2 separate regions of the Homo sapiens genome follow, and region 2 is linked to region 1. The links come from fine-mapping of genetic effects on gene expression. A gene starts in region 1. The other region holds a variant in brackets. All regions are shown on one strand. Distances are between the middles of the regions. Region 1 holds the start of LINC00382 (long intergenic non-protein coding RNA 382). Region 2 overlaps LINC00382 (long intergenic non-protein coding RNA 382).

Evidence for each region. PIP is the estimated chance that this variant, and not a neighbour inherited with it, causes the effect.
Region 2: its variant is the best candidate, but not a certain one, in a credible set for the expression of LINC00382 in testis (GTEx, PIP 0.53).

What each region holds. Positions count from the first base shown.
Region 1 is chr13:79,869,926-79,875,316 of GRCh38, reverse strand. LINC00382 (long intergenic non-protein coding RNA 382) reads right to left here and starts at 2,731. Exons shown (of 6, transcript NR_120413.1): 1 at 2,621-2,731.
Region 2 is chr13:79,913,414-79,918,804 of GRCh38, reverse strand. It overlaps LINC00382 (long intergenic non-protein coding RNA 382), which reads right to left. Exons shown (of 6, transcript NR_120413.1): 4 at 3,945-4,089; 5 at 2,183-2,271; 6 at 769-1,233. Among named protein-coding and RNA genes, the nearest start is that of LINC00382, 44 kb to the right of the region's middle. The variant C/T (reference allele first, on the strand shown) is at 2,338.

The sequences.
Region 1 (5,391 bases):
ACAAATTAAAAAAACTGAGGGCACAGATAGACTTGGGACCATGCTGAAGTTGACACAGTTAGGATTCAAACCCAGGTATTTGGGCCCTAAAGCCTTAGCTGTTGACTGCTGGGTGCTAGCACTTTGTCTTTTAGGCCACTAGGATATCTAGCTACAAATAGATTCTGAAGAGCCAAAGGACTGAGTAACACAGCTAGGGAGCAAATTGCAAAAAGGAGTTGAGAAATTCCCTATTCACTCTGTCTCATCTCCTTTCAAAGAAAAATTATTACAATAACACAATTTTATAAATGAAAAATAAATCCCTGCACTATCATGCGGTTTAAAATTGCAGGAGTTTTTTTCAAACATATAATTTAATAAACATGTGGTTTAAAATGTCAGTCTTCCCCATGGCCTGCCCCAGATACGTTAGGCCTGTAAGCCTTGAAAGGATTTCCCCGTGAAGGCAAATTCTAGGTATATGCAACTCTGAGTCATGTGAGCAAGAAACCAGAAATTTATGTTGAATGACAAGATCAGTGTTGGAGGAATGAGCCATGTGCCAAAACTTCATCAGGCTGTGCTACAATAATAGGTGTTTTTGCTCCATGACTCTTATTTAGGAGACTGTCTAATTTTTCTCTGTTTCTTTTTCTTATTATGAAAAACACTGCCCTTCTTCTGGGCTATAGGAAGGTTACTCTAATGTGAAACTCATAGATTTATCCCACTGAGAGACAGCTGTGACTCAACAACACATCGGGTGGTGCCATCTGCCTGGGTAGGCGGCACTATCACAAACAGGCCTGTGAAAGTCACCCTGTCATTTGCTATGATGATGCCACTAAAAACATTATTTTTCCCATCAAATTATCTCCATTTGTGAGTCTTGGACACAATTTTTTCTGATTCTGGAATTAAGATGATTTCTGCTTTTCTTAAATGATTAGTTTGCTTATTCTTTATGTATTGTCAGAAGGACAATTTGGTTTTTAAAAGGAAATAAAGCCTTAAATCACAAGAATAAGGTTAGGAATTTGGAAATTCACTTAACTAGTCAGTGGGGAGAAAAAATAATTCAGGAGACTCTCTTATCTCTGACATAAATCTAGCTCTGTCACACAGAACTCTACACATCAGAAAAGTGATATGCCACGAACATAACATAGAATCCCCCCAAAATAACTTAGCCACATTGCACAAAGTGAGATAGCTAATAGAAGTACAACTATGACTTTTAAAATTATCTTCAAAATTTTCTTCAAAAATCAAAGAAATATAATGGATCTATGGAGTTAAAATATTCTAGTCTGACTTCGTTCACACTCCGTGAAGCCAGCACTCAATAGCAACACACTCACACCAACCTAGGAAGAGTAAATGGAAATCTAAATTATTAACTTGTCCTTAAAAAAGACATACTACTGCATACAATTTTAATAGAGTGGTATTCTGGTAATAGCAGCAAGATTCATACCTTAGAGTAATTTACAAATATATATGAAGAGATATGTACAGAAATATTCATAGCAGCATTGCTTGCAAAAAGAAAAAAATCCTGAAAGTAACCCAAATGCCCAGGAAACTGAATGATTCTATTGTGATTATTCCAACAAATGGAATACCGTACAACAGTAAAAATGGATGAGTTACAACTACACAAGTCAACATGAATGAATTTCAGAATTATAAAGATGAGTGAAAAACTCACCAAAGAATACATTCAATAGACACCATTTGTATAAAGACTGAAAATAACAAAAAATGTTAACCTATGGGCATAAATATATCTGTCATAAGATGATAACCAAAAAACTGATAAAATAGTGTTTGCTCCTGAGCAACACAGAAGGAGATGCAAGCAGAGGCGAAGAGGCATATGTAATAGAAGACATCAACTGCATTGGTAATATATTATTTCTCAAACTGAGTACTCATGTTACTATTCTTGTAACTTCCAGGTCTGCATGTATTATATCACAGAAATGTTCCATAATATAAAAATTGGTTTAACTAACTATCTTGCTTTGGCAGTAACTAGTTGTTCACCAGCCATTTCCTTTGTCTTTCTGAGCACGTTACTGGCCTCCATTTCCCAGCCTTGCTTGCAGTTAGGTGCTGCCCTGTGATGAGTTCTGTACCACGGACCATGGGCAGAAGAGGTACATGCTCTGTCCAGTGCGGCCTACAAAGCTGGCCCTGCACCTGGCATACTGTCTTCTTCCTGCATCTGCTAATCACATGCAAAAAGTCCATTGCAGGACTCTGTGGACTGAGAGGGTGTCAGAGGCTCTGGATAGTGGCAGAACTGCCATCCTCATTTTCACCCAACTGTGCTAAAAGCAAAAAACAAAAGTCAGCGTGATAAGCCACTGAGGGTAGGGGGTTACGGTAGCAGCCAGCTTCCCCTGCCAATACACTTACTATAAAGTGATAATCATTCAGCCTACAGCTTCCAAATGAAATTAAAACTTCAGAATATAAACCAAAATCTGTTCCAGAGAAATAAACTCAATCTCTCTTCAGTGATTAAAAACACCAAGCAAGATTCAAACCTATCTAAGGAAACTGAGGCCAGAAGTTTCCTCTCTTAGAAAACAAACAAATATTATTTGGAATAAAATCAATCCCACTTTACCAAGAAAATAAGATAATTCACAGATCTTAATTCAAGCATTTCTCATATCCAGTTCCAGGCAAGGAGAGAGCCATAATGTACATGCTTGTAACCAAGAGGCCAACCATCCAAACAGAAATGAATAATGGGGTCACAATAGACATTCCACAGAAAGATTCCAGGGAGGGGATAAGTAACTACCTCTTGCACCCATAAACCATAGCTGCAGAATAACATATAGAAGAGAATAATCGGCACAGCTACATTTTGTCAGCCCTTACTTTATGACAAGCATTATTATCATTGGCTGACAAACACAGTTAATTCTTCATAAATAAGATAGTCCTATTATTAGTATTTTACAGATGAGGAAATTGAGGCATAGAGAATGAAGTTCAAGGCTGTCCCAACATGCTATCTTAGACTGCGTTAAAGAGCTAACATGTTATTCTTCCAAAATATGGGATAGTTATTTTTTTTTAAATATAGGTGTTGCAAAGAGGTCGAGGCCTTCTTGAATTCTCTTTTTAAAAAATCAGTAGGCCCATCTGTAAATTACTAACACCGTCAACTGAGAGTAGAAGCAGTAATAAAGCCAAGAGAGAGGATTCAGAAGAGAAGGGGGTTAGAAACAGCTTCTCATCCTCCACCTTTCCTCTTGCTGCTGCTTTTAAAAATCATCAATCTTACTTGGAACGTGTTTCAGAATCCTTTATTTTAAGACAAGAAAAACCATTAACAAACATGTCCTAAATGAGTTCCTACTAGGTGAATAATGTTCCATTATACACAAACAAGGCCTTACTTATAAAACTGGGTCCCCACTTCCAAGTTTCTGCAATGCAGAATAAAACATAAACATGTCAACTACTCCACTGGATCAAACAAAAAAAAATCAATATCCTGTTTTCCTGGACCACAGAACTACTAATTGCCTTTAAGTGGGCAATATATTTCCTTGAAGTAAGATGAGCTAATTACTTTCCTTCTCTTATCAGAAGCCTATGATAATAAAAGAATGGGAAAATGATTCTCCTTGAATTAAGATTGATTTAGGTAGAATATAAAATGTATAACCTGGAGGTAAAATAAAGAAGTGAGGAAAACAAACAATGATCAACAAAGATAAAAAATATTATAAAGTAGGAAAAGATCTAGCAACATTGGAAATAAGTTGAAAATTATCAGAAAAAGTATCTATGGATCTCTGAGAATCTTTCCTTCCCCAGTAATTAAGCTAACACTAGGTGACATTTTGTTTTTTGCCAGACACTGCTATAAACATTATCCATGTATTAACTAATTTAAACAGCCAAGCTAGGTGAGTACTATTTATGTCCCTGTGTTTTAGAATGCGGACCTGTGTTTTAGAACGAGGACCTGTGTTTTAGAATGACCTGGTGCCAGGTCATACAGCTTTTAAGAGACACAATCAATATTTAAAACTGAATCTCCCCTTGCCCAAGCTGAAAAACCGAACATCTCTAAGAAAGTATCCTCTCGTCTCTTTTGGTTCTTTTGCGTAAGTCTTCACATCTTCTAGTGGTCTTAATGAATAATGAAGGTGAAAAGCCCAGGTAAACCTTTAGAGGTAAATCTGAATATGCAGCTTTTGAAGATGCTGTCTAGGGAGAATTCCCCCAAGTATATATGAGGAGAATTATAGCAATAGAGAAGTGAGTGGGATGGAAATCCTACCAGATGGCATAATATTGTTCAGACAGCGTTGACTGGTTTCCTTTGTATCATATGGTGAGACAACATGTGAGTAAGAAAGGGAGGATGCTGGTGTGTGGAGATGATAAAGGGAACAGGAATGAGAAAAGAAAAAAAGATATAATGATTGTTTTACAGTTTCTAGAAGTTTATGCGCCATATTGCAAATAGGAAATGATTATATGAATTCAATATAATTCTTACAAAATAATAAAATTACAAAGGACTAAAGGTATTAACCATTTCAACACGTGATTGATGGAGTTAAGAAATGTAAAACTAGAGTAGGTTAGGCCAGTTGTCTGAGTTATCCAGCTAGTTAATGCCAGAGTCAACAAGAGAAATCCAATTTCCCAACTTGGTTTCTTCCTGCTTTTTTTTTTTATAACCCTGTGCTACAATATCTAATAAACAATGTCAAGTCTTGATCATTAGCATCTACACTTAATTTAATATGAGCAACAGGCCACAGAAGCTTCTATAGGCTTCTAGATTGTTTTCCTCAATCTGTGTGAAGTTGCTAATTATCTGTTGTTAATGAAAACAACCCTGTAAGCAGCTGAAGAAATGGATTGGAAATAGTAGTTTGAAGTCCAGTAAAGAAACACAGGTGTTGCTGTGTTCAATTAAAGCCTAACAAGAAACTTAGTGGGATAAAAGGGTGGGAGGTGGAACAGGAAAAGGGAAAAATGACATCATCCTCTGCTGGAACTGTTGGAGAAAGGAGAAAAGCCAGAAAATAGCTTACTAAGCACTTCCTAATAAGGAATTTGTAAAGCTGAAGATTTGCAGGACTAACTTTTGTCCACAAAACAATTTACATTTCAAAAAACTAATTTGTGAAAAGATTTTCTTTTAAAAACAGTAGAAAGTCATAGTGGTCAAAGTTAAAGCAAAGACTAGATTTTGAAGCAGGCAATAAATTATAAATTGAGGGGTTGTTTTTGTTTTTGTGGAGGGCAAGGCGGGGGAATAGATTCTATTTAATTTGTTAAAGGTTGATATTTGTACACTGAAAACAGTGTTTTGTAGTACCTTATGGTGTAGGCACTTTACCTGTGTTACTGCAGTAGGGA
Region 2 (5,391 bases), 43 kb before region 1:
TGCCCAAACACTTCATGTTTATAAAAACAAACTCCATTAACATGCCTGGCTTCCCTTTTCATAAAATTGAAGATGATTTATTACATATCTTAGAGCAGTCCAATTTTCCTATAAAATGCATGTTCTGTATTATGTTTGGCACATTTTAGACGATCAATGTGTAATTGTTCAATTGAATTACAATGGATTTGTTTTCCATGAAAATGATAATGGAGAATTTTACAGAACTTGTGATGACCCAATGGCATAAAATAGAGGGCTTATACAAGCTATAAGAACTGGTATGCACTCCAGAAAGGAAGTTAAACTTTTTTTTTTAATGCCACAGTGTTCACCCTTCCAAAGTCAGCCTTAAAAGGAAGAAGTCCAAATTCTCTAACAACTTACTCCACTGAGTTGGGCCTCATTACAAGTCTCTTTAGTGTAATGCATGCATCTACAATCCCATATTAACCTTATTATTTAAATTATTGTAGTAAACCCAATCCTAGGACTTTTCTAAATTTCCAGTATAATCTCTACTATTTTTCATTATTCACTTAAAAAAAAGGAGATTCAATAAGAAGGAAAGGATATAAAACAATCATCTCTGTACCTACTCACTGAAATATAATATGCAGAATTGAAACCCTCTGTTTACCCATCCCTGATCCAATTACTTGCCCTTGATCCTCAGAAGTAACAACTTACTCTGATTTATCCAACTCTTAACCGAAATTTTCTCACCCACCTGTGGCCTAGGAACAAGGAAGAATAACAGAGTCATAGTGAAAATTAGTTTTAGTTTTAATTTTTGCAAAGCACAGACTTAGCAGGGTTACGATGATTTCATGTGTTTTTCAGAAGACACTGGTTCTCTTAACCCTATTGTGGAGATATGCTTACTACTCTTACTGAAATGTTGGCCAAGAAGACACAGACATTGTAGCGGTCTCAAAACCCATGCTTCTCTCATTACACTACGCAACCTAGTCCCCTCTCTTGCACAAGAGGTCTCTAGTGTTCTCTATGCACAGCCAAGTGCAGTTTTCTGCCCTTCTCTAATGCCATGTCTGTGTCCTAAAGAGGAGAGCAAATTTGAAGCTTCATAACAATGACATTCACAACTTCCAGTCACTTCTTTAGAGCTCTGGTCTGTTCCAGAGCAGGGTGTGCACACCCAAGGCAGGAGCAAATTGAGCCATTAGGTGATGGACAAATGGCATTTTAATTCTTATTTAAACGTAGTTTGATCTAAAGCAAAGAAGAAATTGAATATTAATACAAATAGTAGTAGTATATATACAATTCATGAATAAATATACATATATTGAGGGTGCATGCTCAAAAGTTTTTCTTGTAATTTTTAACTGATAAAAGAGAGTAATCAAATATATTTGGAGAGCACAGATCCAAATAATTCATGTTTACTATCTGTGTTACCTGAGGAAAAATAGTTTCAAGACATGTTGTGTGATTTTAATCACATGCAGGTAATACTGATGTAGTTTTATATACATATACATACCAGATTAAAATAAATTATTTACCTCTGTTCCCATAGAAAATGATACAGTTCCTAGAACTTTTAGTTTAGCTGAGTACATATAACTAAATATTCGCTATTCATCAGCTGCACACTCTAGGTCTATTTTGAAAGACATTTTTATTTTATAATACACTTTTAGCTCTAAAAGGTTTTTAATTTGTTTTGTTTGAGAACCAGAGTTTAAAATGTCCAGAAGAGTTTTTCAGTTGAGGATAGTTAAAATTAAAATTGTAAATAGTTACTTATTACTCCAATATTTATTGAGCATCTACTATGATACAGTAATGATACAAAGGTTAAAAAATAAATATTTCGTATTTGCTTTTTTTCAAGTGCTAAGAATAAGTAATGAGCAAAAGATCGTTGGTGGTCCCTATCTTCAAGGAATTTACTAAGAAATATAAAAGTTGAAATAAATTAGAGAAAATCTTTTAAGCAAAGTATGAACAAAGTCATGTAGACTGTGTCTCTTCCATGTCCACCCTACTCTGCTCCTACTTTCAGATTTCCTCTTCTATGAGCACTGCTCAAAACAAACAAATAAACAAAAACCAAACAGATCCCTAGACTTGCTCGTCATTTCCCATATCTCAGGATCACTCAATATTCTCATTCTCCTGACCTTCACCTCCCGTGTCAACTTCTTTATTTTACCTGACCAACTTTATTTGGGTGATATTGAGTTTAATTTGATTGACTAATCCTGGCTCTTCTGAAATTCCTCCCTGGATCCACAGACAGTCCTGAAAAAGGGAGGCCAAGAGCAGGACTTAGGAACCCCAGAGCAGGCTAAAGAGGAAGAATTTTTA[C/T]GAGGTAGGCTTTTGAAGGTGGCATAAATTATTTCACATAGACCAGCTAACTCGGTCAGTTGCATTTGGGAAAGCTTGTGAGTCCCTCTGCTATTGGACATTTTCTTTCATTTTAATGATCCTTAAATTGTTCAAAGTAATTATCATTTTAAATTCATATATTAGGGTCTCTTTAATTGGGAGCCTTTTATAGGGCCACAGCAACTTCCTTTGGATGTATTAAGCTTGCTGTCTTCCCCCACAGCACAAGGCTCTATACAAAGCAAGCACTTATTCTTCCTAGAAACATTTATTGGATACTGCCTCGAACAAGGCACGGTGATAGTGATGTGGAGGACACAAAGATGTACGCACAAAGCAATAACATGCCATTTTGACCAAGAAAATGAGGATTATGTTATCTCCCTCTTACAAACACATGGAAATGTTGTGAGTATTTGGTATCTTAAAAATAAATTTTGGACATTGCTTTCAGCTGCACATCTTGCAGCACTGACAAATATATAGTGTCAATATAATACTATTATGTTTCCATTCCCACATCATCAGTCACAGGCTTATCTGTTTTACATAGTCACAGTTTCAAAGCATTTGGGAGACTTTATGGTGGGTAATGATTTAGGAAGAGATGAGAATAGTTGCACGTTTTGTAAAGAGTTGTGAGTGTATTTACTGGGAATGATGATGATGATCATGATGATAATGATAAGGTCCCCAGCTGTCTGTTGAAGTCCCTTTCTGGGAAACAGCTGGAAACTCATTCTCTAAAGATCGCATCTGGCTTGATTTGCCAGCACTCAAATCCCATTGATCTGGTTCTGTTCTAGCCCTCTGTACTCACAGTTCAAAGAGCAGGGAGGCCTGTAAAGAAATTACTGCCATATTGTTCAATCAGCCACAGTGAGCCATATATACGATTATAATTAGGAACACATTAAGGGAAGCAGCTCAGTGGAGATAAGCTGCCTGACTGCATACGCTTTTTGATGAGGGCTTAGCGCCAATACGAAAAGAAAAAGATTAAATGTTTGTTACCAATCCTTTTGAACTTGTGGCAGAACATGTGGTAAAGTATTTTTGATTCAAATTAAAAGCATCCTAGGATAAAAATAACCCTGTTCTCCCAGGCCATTCCAAGTGAAACCATTTGGAGACTGATTTATTGTATCGCCCTTAACCTCTTTCCACCAGCATGATTAACGTAAGCATTTCTGAATCCCTTATAAGCCTGGACAGGTATTTGTCTTGTTACACATCTGTGGAACAAATGGCAATACAAATTATACACTCAACAGATGTAAGTTTTCAAAGGCCAGGCAAATTTAATTTGACTGTGCATGTAAATGAAAAGTTCATTGAGCTCCAAGGTCAGTGATGTGGGTTGCAGGTAAAGAGGATTGTTGCATCAAACATCACCAAAAGGCCAGGGATTCAGAAACCCTCAAAGGGAGCTTCCTAAGCCAAGCAAAGAAAATATAAGCTGCTGCTGCACCACCAAGGAGACAAGCATAGAGAAGGCTGCAAAAGAAAGGGACAGCTTGACCACTACCATCTCGAAAGCCTTTATACAGTCACTGGAAAGAAAAAAAAAGGCAAGATGACCATACCAAATATTTTAAGCTTCCATGACAAGAGGAAGCATGGTTTAGTGGTTTCTTCTGGAAATGGAGAATAGAAAGTTTGTTCCAGATTTAGTCTCTTCCTTCCTCTGTGGCCTTTGGCAAGACTCTTAGCCTCTCTGTGCCTGTTTAACTGTAAAATTGGGATATTAGTGTTTCCCACTTCACAGGTTTCTAAGGTTTAGTATCTTTCTACAGTGATGTTGACCTGTTTAAAATAATACTACATATTATACATTTCATGAGTCCAGAAAATTTGTAACCACATGAACTTATCTGCCAAAGGAATAATTTAGTTTAAGTTGTTTTTAATTATATCATGTGTTCTTAAAATTTCTGTGAACAGTGAAATTTATTTATTTAGTGGTCCTAAATGCTAATTTAAGAAAACCTCAATTATAATATTTTCTCACAGTGTCTCAGTTTTTCCCCAAGACACACCCACATACACATACACATACACACACACACACACACACACACACACACTTTCCTCATTTCCTCTTCCCATTCTAAATTTTGAGGTGTTTTGGCCTCTCTATAATTTCTCCCTTAGTAAAGTAGATATTGTCAATAGTAGTAACACTAAGCTTCTGAAAGCAATAAAACTAAATAATTAATACCACAAGGAAACACATAATGTCAGAACATAGTTGGTTAAACCAAGGGATAAGACTCTAATATGGTAAAGTGTCTTGTGAATTTCTAAGAGAGGGAAAACTTGCCTAATAACAGTTTTGTACCCCTTTACCACTGAATTCCCTCAGGTCTAGTGTTCTGAAGAAAACAATCTGGGAAAAACAATTTGGGAATAACCTAAAGTGTTTTGATACACCTGTGTTCTTTGAGCAAGACGAGTAAAAGTGAGGCCTTTTAAACAACAAGGAAATTATTTCCAAATGCAAATGTGCTTGATTGAGAATGCATATTTGCCTTTAGAAAGAAGATGAAGGCAAAGGGGATAGGTAGAGTACTCTTTTCTTCTCTTGCTCCCACCGGGAAGAATATGCTGCTATTACTTTTTTTGTTTTGTTTGTGTGCTTTGATTCTTTCCTGTAGAAATAACAAGAATAAAAGTATTTGGTGTAACCTAACTTTCTCTATTGTAAGTCTGTGCTAATTACCAGAAGGTCAAACAAATTGAACCTGTAGTTTATGACAGTTTTATAAATAAACATTTTATGTGTAATTGATCCCTAGTGTTCTTTGAAATGCCAATTAGGAAACTCTTGCTGCTTTATAGCCATTAGTCAGGGAAAGATGGACTGATGACTTCACAGTGGTGTGAGAATAGCTCACTGCCTTACTCCTAAAAGGCAAAGTTAAAAAGGGGCAAGGGACATCTTTCAGGTAAAAGAGGTGTATATGAAAATGAAAATCCAAGAACAACTGTCACAGCTGATAGCTAGGTAGCCACAGCACCCTTCTTGTAAGT